Linked DNA regions of Homo sapiens. The protein of the gene in region 1 interacts with the protein of each later gene in a pairwise test. Each region holds a gene or a part of one and is shown in the gene's direction. Other genes may lie near its edges. The genes, in order: CIAO2B, PECAM1 and UBE2K.

Evidence for each region.
Region 2: the proteins of CIAO2B (region 1) and PECAM1 interact in binary tests that used the Homo sapiens proteins (3 or more experiments, as listed by UniProt).
Region 3: the proteins of CIAO2B (region 1) and UBE2K interact in binary tests that used the Homo sapiens proteins (3 or more experiments, as listed by UniProt).

Annotation. Positions count from the first base shown.
Region 1 is NC_000016.10:66,932,355-66,936,103, reverse strand, and holds the start of CIAO2B (cytosolic iron-sulfur assembly component 2B), read left to right. Parts: upstream 1-1,701; 5' UTR 1,702-1,739; coding exon 1,740-1,881; exon of another isoform or gene 1,882-2,037; coding exon 2,038-2,117; intron 2,118-2,364; coding exon 2,365-2,490; intron 2,491-3,278; coding exon 3,279-3,324; intron 3,325-3,749. Other genes in the region: CES2 (cocaine esterase isoform 1 precursor), read right to left, coding at 393-468.
Region 2 is NC_000017.11:64,384,121-64,387,869, reverse strand, and holds part of PECAM1 (platelet endothelial cell adhesion molecule precursor), read left to right. Parts: intron 1-3,749. UniProt on the Homo sapiens protein: Cell adhesion molecule which is required for leukocyte transendothelial migration (TEM) under most inflammatory conditions.
Region 3 is NC_000004.12:39,777,989-39,781,737, forward strand, and holds part of UBE2K (ubiquitin-conjugating enzyme E2 K), read left to right. Parts: intron 1-371; coding exon 372-446; 3' UTR 447-3,749. UniProt on the Homo sapiens protein: Accepts ubiquitin from the E1 complex and catalyzes its covalent attachment to other proteins. In vitro, in the presence or in the absence of BRCA1-BARD1 E3 ubiquitin-protein ligase complex, catalyzes the synthesis of 'Lys-48'-linked polyubiquitin chains.

The DNA of each region.
Region 1 (3,749 bases):
GATGCTGCCAGAAGCTATTACTGTTATTACCGGCCGGCAGCACCCGCTACAGCCACAATCATAAGAGGGAAATGGACTGAATCCCCACACCCCAATCCCTCACCCACTCCGACCCCAGGCTGCCTACCCGGCCTGGCATGTCCCGGCGCTCCTGGGGCCCCTGTACTCCGCTGGTTCCTTGCCGTGGTGTCCCCCAGCCCGACCCTTTCTGTGCTTCTAGGAGCCCACCTTGGGCGGCGGGGAGGCGTTGCGTGGGGCTCACGAGTTCCACGCTGTCATCTCCACCAGCTCCTACCTCCCAGGCGCCTGCCCTCCCGCACTGTCAGGTTCTGCCTCCGCAGCATTTGGCAGATCTGAGCCCGGTCCCTGTCGCCCCTCCGAGGGAGCCTCACCCTGGCCCCGGACAAGAAGCAGCAGAAGCCCACAGGCCACCGCGCTCAGCCGCGCACGAAGTCTGTGCAGCCGCATGGTCGGCTCGCTGGTCTCGGTTCGCTGCCGGCGGACACGCTGCTGTTCACCCAGAGGCTGCCCCGGGTCTGTCCAGCAGTGGATCAGTGCCTTGCCCAGCCTTGGAGTTTGGACTGGGCAGGGAGTCAGCGGGGTGCGCTGGCTTGGGCCGGGAAAGGTGGGTGTGGTAGGAGAGCGGGACTGAGCAGTCATAGGTGGGTGGGGATCTAGTGGTAGGCAGGCCCGGGCACGGCCACTTTCCTTTGCCCGGGCTCCTTTGGCATCCTCGGAAGGGGCTGTGCCATTCCTGCAGCCCTTCCGCGATCCAGGGAATCCTCTCTTCAAACCTGTCCTTGTCCACAGGCCCGATGAGCGCGCTGGGGGATCGATAGGAGGGGGCAATAAACTAGAATTGGAGACCCCAGGAGGGCTTCTCTGAGGATGTGCACGTTCAGGATCCCCCAGATGGAGAAATGGGAAGGAACTTGATCGGGGTGAAGGAACCGCTTGAGCAAAGGCAGGAAGGAGTGTCGGCGCCCTTCATTCTGGAAGTTCCTCCTTGCTTTCAGGACTCAGTTTCCTGGGTTCCCCTTCACGGCCCCTCATCTCCTTACAGTCCAGGGTCTGAGGGTCTCCGCGGTCCCCTCCCTACTCAGTCACGCCATTCTTTTGAAACGTACACGTGACCGCGGCACTTCTTAAGGAGCGCCCCCCTTTTCCTCGGTGGCTTTCAGTTTCCTCACCTCCCGCGGAGACCACGGCCATGGTCATTTATCCACTTGACAAACATTTCACGAGCCCCTGCCGGTCCAAGCTGTGGGGACGCCGTACTCCCGGGCCTATGGTGCAGCAGGGGAGGCAGGCGCGTCACCGGGAGGTCCCGAGACACTAGGATCCCTGCCAGGCCAGAGGCGACCAACCGTCCTGGATACGGGAGCTCCCGGCCAGCCTGACTTCCAGGAGGAAGCGGTGTGGGGATTACCTCCGACCGCCTTTAGTGCCCCCTGAGACCTGGTTCTGGCCTCTACGTTTCAGCCCGCTACTGGCTCGCACGACCCAGCGCCGCCGTGGTCCCTTCTCAGCGCCTTCTGCTCCAGCGACCATCATGTTCCCGGGTCCGAGCAGCCAGGGCCGCGGTCACCGCTTCTCTCGCACCTCAGGCCGAGAACCCACAACGCGGCGTGTCCCTCGCGCGACTCCGTCGCCACGCCACGCCCCCTTCCCGTTCTCCGGAAGTGCGCGGGTTGGAGCGGAAGCGCACGCCTGCTAGGATCAGCGGTGGTGGTTCCGCGATGGTAGGCGGCGGCGGGGTCGGCGGCGGCCTCCTGGAGAATGCCAACCCCCTCATCTACCAGCGCTCTGGGGAGCGGCCTGTGACGGCAGGCGAGGAGGACGAGCAGGTTCCCGACAGCATCGACGCACGCGAGATCTTCGATATCCGCCGCTGCTGGGCGCGGGCGGGTTCCGGGGGCTTGCGGTGGGGGGAGCAGTGATATCGAGCAGCTGGTGGAGCCGCATCCCAGCAGGGCGTTCCTGGCAGAGGGTTCTAAGTGGGCAAGGGCGCAGAGTCCCTTTTCCTTCACTTCCCACATCTGATTCGCTCCATCAATGACCCGGAGCATCCACTGACGCTAGAGGAGTTGAACGTAGTAGAGCAGGTGCGGGTTCAGGTGAGTCACTTCCGAGGGGAGCGAGTTGTTCCAGAGAGTCAGAAAGGTTTCTGTGCAGCAGGAGCTGGCGTGCTCTATGCTCACGAACACCGAAGGGTATCTTTGGGGAGGGAGATTGTTGTGCCTATTTTATGGGTGTTGAAACTGAGGCCCATAGAAGTTGGATGATTTGCCCAAAACAACAAACTAAGAAGAGGGACCTTGGGCTGAGGGTGGTTGACTCTTGACATCTCTCCTCCACAACCAGGTTAGCGACCCCGAGAGTACAGTGGCTGTGGCTTTCACACCAACCATTCCGCACTGCAGCATGGCCACCCTTATTGGTCTGTCCATCAAGGTCAAGCTTCTGCGCTCCCTTCCTCAGCGTTTCAAGGTCAGTTGGAGCTGAGCCCCGGGAGTGAGACCAGGCATTGAGGGTCTACTGCTGAGGATGGGGACTGGGAGAGCATGAACATGGATAGGACATCAGAGTGGGGCCTGGAAGGATCCCCATTAGCAGAGAGGAAACTGGGAGGAAGCTTTCCAAGTCGATGTGACAAGAATAAAGATCTGAGCTGGAAAGTGGAGAAAAGTATTGAAGAGTGTGGCAGGAAGGGCAGTAGGGAGCGGCAGATGGGTTTGGACCAGGGGTGGGGCACAGGCAGGCCTTTAAATCAACAGTAGTGGGCCAGTTCTTTGGATAGAATTGGAATAGCTAGGGCCGGGCGCGGTGGCTCACGCCTGTAATCCCAGCACTTTGGGAGGCTGAGGCGGGTGGATCATCTGAGGTTAGGAGTTGGAGACCAGCCTGGCCAACATGGTGAAATCTCATCTCTACTAAAAATACAAAAATTAGTGGGGCGTGGTGGTGTGTGCCTGTGGTCCCAGCTACACGGGTGGCTGAGGAAGGAGAATCAAATTGAACCTGGGAGACAGAGGTTGCAGTGAGCCGAGATTGCGCTGCTGCACTCCAGCCTGGGCAACAGAGCAAGACTCAGTCTTGGAAAAAAAAAAAGAATTGGAATACCTGTGGATGGGTTTGGGGTGTAACGGAAGGGCCAGAGTCCAAAGGCATGATTAGGAGGAAGGATCAGCTGGAGATGGTGCCTGAGGGTCTGGGGGCTGCAGGGAAAAGTGTGGGTCGGTGGGTGGGTGTTCAGGCCCTGGTTATCTCCCTCCCAGATGGACGTGCACATTACTCCGGGGACCCATGCCTCAGAGCATGCAGGTAAGTGTGGACTGGTGGTGAGGGTGTTGGCCCGGGCACCCCCTAAGCAGTCTGAGGCTTCCCCCTTGCACAGGAGTCTATGGGCAAGACTGGAGATGGGTAACTGTGTGAGTGAAATTGCCAGAGACTCCTCAGTATGGGTTATAGCCTAGACCGAAGCTGGCCTGAGAAGACTCTCCTTTGCTTACCATGTCCTCTTCTCCCAAATCCCCTCTCACCAAATATACAGGACCAGAGTGTGTCAGGCTTCAGCAGCGCAGGAGGCAGCCAGGGGGAGGGATCCTAAGAAGGCAGATTAGGTGGGCTCAGGTGGTTGAAGTAGCCTGATCAATATGTGGGGTCCTGGGAAGGAGGTGACAGGAGGGCTCTGTTGCTGCGGGGGACATATCCTATATAGAGGTTCAGAGGTAGGGCTGGCTAGCACT
Region 2 (3,749 bases), on another chromosome or scaffold:
CCTGGGACAGCCTCGGCCCTTTCCCTTCCTTCCATCTCAGGCCTCTTTGTTCCCCTCCAGCCCGCACCTCACTGCAGCTGCCTCACCTCAGGAGGTGACGGCTGCTCCATCTTCACCTAGAAAACAGTCATCTGGAGGGAACTCCCTCAACTTCCCGCCTGGGCCTGGCTGCAGGCTTATCAGCCTCTCCACCCATCCTCTCGGTTTCCCTCCCGGCCTCGGAGGACACATGCACCCTGCTCCTCAGCTGATGGGGGCCAGCCAGGCACTTAGGCTGAGACCCTTCCTCACCCCCAGGACCCCACGCCTACGTGCATTCAAGTCCCTCTCCCCTACCACCACTTCTAGAATCTCTATTTCTGCTTCTGGCTCTGTTCTCTCAGTGAATGGGAACTCTTTTTTTAGGAAAAAGAAAAATCACAAGCAGACACCCACCCCCACCGTTTATCTGGTGTCCCCCTATCTGGCCTTTCTAGTTTCCTTTCTCAGTCGAACCTCTCTGAAAGTTAGTTTATAATCTGTGCCTACCCACCTCACCTCTCAGACACGCCTCGCCTCCCAGCAGCCTGGCCTCAGGCCCCACTTCTCCGGCTGTTGGGTCTCCTCTTGCTGAGGGGTCACCAAGGACCACCTGATGCCAAATGCAACGGACACTTCCAGCCCTCGGCTCCCTGTACCCCTTTCCTGCCTTTGACTTTTGATCGTGCCCCAAAGCCTCGCTCCTTGACCTTTTCCATCCTCTTCCCTGCTTTGTCTCCTCACTCTCTAACAAACCCTCTTCCTTCTCCCCCATGGCTGACTTTGGACTTACTTTGTCTTCTCCTGGAGTCTGAACCCTGTCCTGGTCTCTGCGGGCTCCTGGTCTTATCCTCCCTGGAGACCAGCTCCCCTCTCAACACCTCCACATTCCCCCCTCCTCCCCTAAGTTCACACTCCTCCCACCTTCACAGTCCAGCCCTGGCCTCTGCCCTGAGCCTCCAGTTAACACAGGCTGACCTTTGATGTCTCCTCCCAGTCCTCCTACTGGCCCCTCACACGCAGCTGCACCACCATCACTTTGTCTTCCTTCCTTATCTTTTTCTGTTTGTTTGTTTGTTTTTGTAGAGACTGGGGTCTCATTTTGTTGCCCAGGCTGGTCTCAAACTCCTGGGCTGAAGCCATCCTCCTGCCTCGGCCTCCGAAAGTGCTGGGATAACAGATATGAGCCACCACACCCAGCTGCGTGTGGCATTTTCTATTTTAGTTTGGTGGCACACACATCCTCCTGGGAATCTAATCCAGGAAGTTTATCTTCCATTCTTTCAACCCCATATCCAATCAAACAAAGTCTTTTTTTAAATTGTGGTAAAATACAAATAATATAACATTTATTATTAATGACATTTAGTACATTCACGGTGTTGTGCAACCATCACCATTGTCTAATTCTAGAACATATTCTTTCTTTTTCTTTTTTTTTTTTTTTTGACAGAGTCTCACTCTTGTTGCCCAGGCTGGAGTGCAGTGGTTGGATCTCAGCTCACTGCAACCTTCACCTCCCAGATTCAAGCAATTCTCCTGCCTCACCCTCCTGAGTAGCTGCAATTACAGGCACGAACCACCATGCCCGGCTAATTTTTGTATTTTTAGTAGAGACAAGGTTTTGCCATGTTGGCCAGGCTATTCTCAAACTCCTGACCTTAAGTGATCCACCTGTCTTGGCCTCCCGAAGTGCTGGGATTCATTCTAGAACATTTTCAACACCCCAGAAACAAGTCCTGTTGAGTCCACTCAGGAGATCCCCAGCCTATCCTTCCCTCATCCCCACTGCACCCGCCTAGCTCAGGCCTCATCAGCTTTCACCTGAACCACTTCCAAGCTGTTTACTGGCCTTGGGTGCTGTCACACCCCTCCTGACACCCTCAGGACAGGGCCCAGCTTGTCAGCACAGCAGGCCAGCCCTCCATTCTGGCACGACAGACCCAGCCACCTGGCCTCTCTAGCCCCACACTCTGGTTTCTGTAATGGGCCATGCCCAGAAGGCACGGATTTCTCACACCCTCGTGTCCTGGGACACGCTGTTCTCTTACCTGGAGTACCCCACTGCCTGTCCTTGGCCTGGCAGGCTCAGTTCAGTGGTCACTTCCTTCAGACTCCTTGACCTCTCCTGGGCAGCCCTTCCTCTTGGTGCTTACTGATATCACTGGAGTCCAGCTATGTGGGCCCCAGCAACCTTTGCTGTTTGGGACAGCAAGGATGATTTCTTACTTACTCTGTCAGCCCAGCACCTGGCACAGGTTCTCGACACATGTCTCATTGGATGGGAACTTGAACTGAACTTGGAGATGCTTGAGATTCGGGTAGGAAGATGGCTCAGCATGCTCTCTGATGAGCACAGAAGTTCATCAGGGACTCTATGCTTCGTGGCTCCCAGTAATTTTCCTGACGAGGGTGGGCAGCCCCTCCTTCTCCTGCACCCTCCACTTTCTCTCTGAGTCATTTCCAGGTTGAGGGCCAGGGGGCTGGCTGACTGATGGTGCCGCATGTTTCCAGGGAGCACCACCATCCACTGATGAGTGGCCTTGAGGTCAAGGTCCCACTGTTTTTAGCATGTTGGGGTTTGGCACTGTGGTCACTGGCTGTTCCGTGGTGACTTTCCAAATTTAGATCCTTCTCCGTCAACCTTCATCTCCCCGGGTTGAAAAGATCTGACCTCTTTAGGCTGTCCCACAGCCCCACCCTTCATCACAATAGTCCTGAAACTTTTTGGGTTCAGTAAGGAAATCTGTGGGCCTTCTCTCCAGAAAAAGCACACATTTGCACACAATTGGAGGTAGTTGATGAGCCTCCTAACACCCACCCATGCACCTCCCAGGGGCTGTGTCCCCCAGGTTGTGAACAGTCACTCTGTGTAAATAGTGAGACCTACAGGCAGTAATTCAGTTTGGCTGTGCTTGGCTGGTTTATTTAGAAAGATGATAATGTTTTCCATATTATCAAAACAAGAATCAGGCAGAGACTTTTGAAGTTTGGTTGCGTGGTATATTTGTTACCTATTGCTGCATAACAATTTACCTAAAACTTACTGGCTTAAGATAACACAGATTTATTATCCTGAAGTTTCTGAGGGTCAGGAATGCAGGAGTGGCTGAGTTGGGTGGTGCTGGCACCGGGTCTCATTAGATTGCAGATAAATTGTTGGTCAGGGTTGCGGTTATCTGAAGGCTTGACTGAGTCTGGGGAATCTGCTTCCAAGCTCACTCCTGTGGCTATGGGCTGGAGGCCTTAGTTCCTCATCCTGGGTACCTTCCACAGGGCTGCTTATGCTATGACTGCTGGCATTCCCCAGAATGAGGGATCCCAGACAGGAGAGAGAGTGATCAGGATAAAAGCTGCATTGTCTTTTATTACCTGATGGAGTATTTTGTTGGTTAATGTTAACGTGGGAGGTGACCACGTGTAAGTGTGATGAGCAGAGGGCAAGGACCATTGGGGGGGGCATCTTGAAGGGCTTCTATAGCAAGGGAGGTGGTGGTGGTTGTGGCGGTAAAAACTAGGTCACTGTTTTTGTTGTTTTGTCGATGATATTTGTGTTAAGATGAAGAGCTGAGACTCATATCTCAACAGAGTTTATAAAATGCTTTTCTTTTTTCCATCCTGCCCTCTCTTCTCCCTTGTCTGTTCGAGCTAGCCATGGGAATGTGGTGTTCCTGCCAGTGCATCCATTGAGTTCGTTTATTGTTAATTTATTTATTTTCTGAGATGGAGTT
Region 3 (3,749 bases), on another chromosome or scaffold:
TCTGAAGGCTGAGGTGAGAGAATCCCTTGGGCCCAGGAGGTCGAGGCTGCAGTGAGCGATAGTCATGCCACTGCACTCCAGCCTTGGTGATAGAGCAAGACCCTGTCTCAAAAAAAAAAAAAAAAAAAAAAAAAAGGAAAATAAGAGAAAATCTAGTTTTGGTAAACATATTTTCTGTTTTCAAAGTCAGTGATTTTTTTATTTTTACTAATTACTGTCATTGATTTTAGAAGCTTTCCATGCACTGCAAATGTAAATCAACTTACAGAAAAGAAACAAGGTGTTAATTCCCAGTATAAAGAGTGAATGATTCAGTATTGTTTAAATGTTTCCTTGAGATTTAATTTCCTGTCCCCTTTTCTTCTCTACAGAATGCAGTAATAGTGGCCTTGTCTTCAAAATCATGGGATGTAGAGACTGCAACAGAATTGCTTCTGAGTAACTGAGGCATAGAGAGCTGCTGATATAGTCAAGCTTGCCTCTTCTTGAGGAGCACCAACATCTGTTATTTTTAGGATTCTGCATAGATTTCTTTTAAACTGGCATTCTTGCCTAATGATGTTATCTAGGCACCATTGGAGACTGAAAAAAAAAAATCCCTGCTCTGTAAATAAAGCTAATTAAACGTCTGTGTAAATTTAAAAAGGGGAAATACTTTAATTTTTTTTCTTAATAGTGTAAAAATTCCCTGAGCTAAGCTAAAACCATGGAAGAAACATGCTACTTTAGTGTTTAGCAGTGTACCAAGACTAGCAAGAGTTTGCTTCAGGATTTTGTTGAATAATTAAGATAATATTTTGAGTGTGTCAGGGCCATTCAAATTGTTGGTGTTGCATCACAGCTACCTTAACTGTTTTTAACATGGATCCTCTGTGCCTGTGAATTTACTTGCATGCTTGTACTTGACTTCTTAGGATGGGTAGCTGAAAAGACCACCATTTTAAGCATTTGAGAATTCTTAAATATGAAATTTATTCAGAATTGAAGATGGTGACCTATTCAGAGCCTTTTTGTCCTTGTCAACAGACTGGGACAGTGTCTGATTCCCCCTTCACCCCCCCCACCCCCGCCTTGCCACACACAGCTAATATTCTAATGGTAAATTTCTCTGTATCAGGTGGGGAAATGTGCTGAAGGACAGTATGTATCCCTTGCTTCATTTTTAGGTCGTAGGTTTGGAATGTCTTGTCCCAGTTCTTCAAACACTCTTAAATTTTTCTTAAGTAATGTAAAAATGGAACTGCCAATTTTATTTCTCTTGCAAAAATAGTAAATACTTGATGTTACATTATTCCCAGGTTTAATGAAAGAACCCAACTTAGTTTTTCAGTGAATTTGACACCTATTTTTTAGTGATGAAATTTTTCTTTGAGAACTGGCAAGGATGCAGTCAGCTGTTTGCAGTTTTTAGCCTGATTTTGGGGTCTATAGAGATTGCTTTATTGGATACTTCAAGTCATTCTTGCTTGCACTTCCCCTATTGACACATGAAAGCTGTGTTGGTGTTTTATTGTACATACTTCAGATGCACATAGGAATAGAAGTGTGTTATAAATCTAGCTTTCTTTATGATGTTTCTGATAATACGAGAATTGAAAACTTTACCTTCTCTTGTACATAGTCAGACTATTTGTATTAAATTTACATTTCATTCTAAGTTCAAAAGTTTGAAAATTATTAGTTTTGCAAGATCACACACTAATGTAACCATTTTATGAAGGTTGAAGTGGATTTATGCAGGCAGTTCTATATATAGAAATACAATTCTTTTTAAATTTTTAGGACCAATACAAAATAACAAAAATGTAATGGAATCAGACTGAATTAAAGTAAGGCTGTATATTGAAAGTCATATTATAAAAGGTTTGCTTTCTTTAAGTGTTATTTATCTTAAATTATAATCGTTAAATGTTTGGAAGATAATTTTTGAATCATAACGTCAGCATAACTTCATTTGACTTCTCAATAATCTTGATACTAGAAGCAATAAAAGAACCATTATTAAATATATTGTAATGTTAAAGATGTGAAGGTTCTTCCAAAAATTTGTAAGGCTTTCCTAATTAACAGTAAACTCTTATAGCTGATATTATTACATACTAAACACAAGTTGCTGTTTTTTCCCCATATGTTTGCTTACGCATGTCTTTATACAATCACCTCTTTTTATTGCTGTAGTTTATTTTCTAAAGATGCCAAAGGAAACAAGATTTTTCTTTATTTATTTTAAATACCTGAAACCTCGTACTTTATATTTTGAAGTAAGGTGGGATTGTGTGAAAATGTGGATGGTTTTTCTCCAGTGTTGGTTAGAACTACTTTTTTTAAGTGGAGGGCAACTTGGTAGTATTAGTAGAATTTGGGTTTAAAAATATCAGACACATCTACCCAGTTTATTTTTTGCCTGTATTATCAGGGTATATTTAATTGTCCTGTGGTTAAACAAAGGTGAGAGAGCTCAGAGGTTTCTAAAGGTCAAGCATTTTACATATATACATACATACATGCTCTTGGAGGCAGCTATATCCTGCTTTGATTTTTATGCACATGAGCCCTATAGGGTTATATACTCATCTAACTACACTTCAGCATCCCCAGTGCCCAAGAAATTGGAAAGTACAATATTTGGTTTGAGACATTCTTCATAAAAGATTCTTTATTATAAAAATTTACCTCATTTACATTTAATGTGATGATCTTTTTTTTCCTTTCTGGTATATTTCCCACTGTACTGTTTGGTTTTTGTTATTCTCTTGTCTGTGGGTAGATTTAGTTACCCAAACATAGAAACTAAAGCAATTGCTTTTTTCCTCTGGTCTTAAATATGTTTGGACAAAAAGACACTAAAAGGTCAGGCCTAGGGGAAAAGTACCCTGGTGGAAATTATTTTTGTAATTCTTAATATTTTTGAGTTGGCTCCGTTTGTCAGTTTTAAAAGCCTCAAAAATTATGTTAAAAAAAAAATCCAGTGAAATCCCATTTAGGGCAGGCCGATTTGTTAGAAGTCACTGATGCTCCAGTAGGCTTTTGTTATAATCAGGCCTGTTTCCTGAGTATGTGCCTCTTTTAAAAGAAGAAATAATTAGCTGTATAGTATTTCAGTACTGATGAATGAATGAATGAATGAATGGCAGTTAGTGGACCCAAATAAGTATTCAGTGGTATATAAATATTTGAGGAACTAGGTACTGAATTAGGTGCTCTGAGTTGGCACCCCGAAATGTTTGGAATCACGACTATGATTTACTTAAACACGTAACACATTCAAGGATATATAAATGGAGTCTAAGTATTTTGCTTTTGAAGAGAATAATCTATGAAATGGAAGACTTGATTTTTTTTTTCATTTTTTAGAAGTAATACACATTTATGATTGTTGGCACATAAAACTATGCAAAATAATTCTTTTTAAGTATCTGTAAGAAAGAATTGGCAGTTTAAACGGATTTTGCTTATTTATGCACTACAGAATGCAGCATACTGTATTACTGTTGAGGCTGCTTAATAAGTTTACCAATGTGAAAAGCAGATCTTGGGTATAAGTGTATGCCTGATTTGAGCTTTTAAAACTGTGCAGTAGGTGTATGGTAATGTTTTACAATCCTATGTAGCAAAATAGGAAATTATGAATTTTTGTTGTTATTGTTTTAAAGATTTAAGATGGATTGGGGTAGGGAACAGCTGGAGCCAGGTATACCTTCTAGTATGTAGAGGGAAACAATGTTTAGATAGGAAAAAGGAAGCCGTCT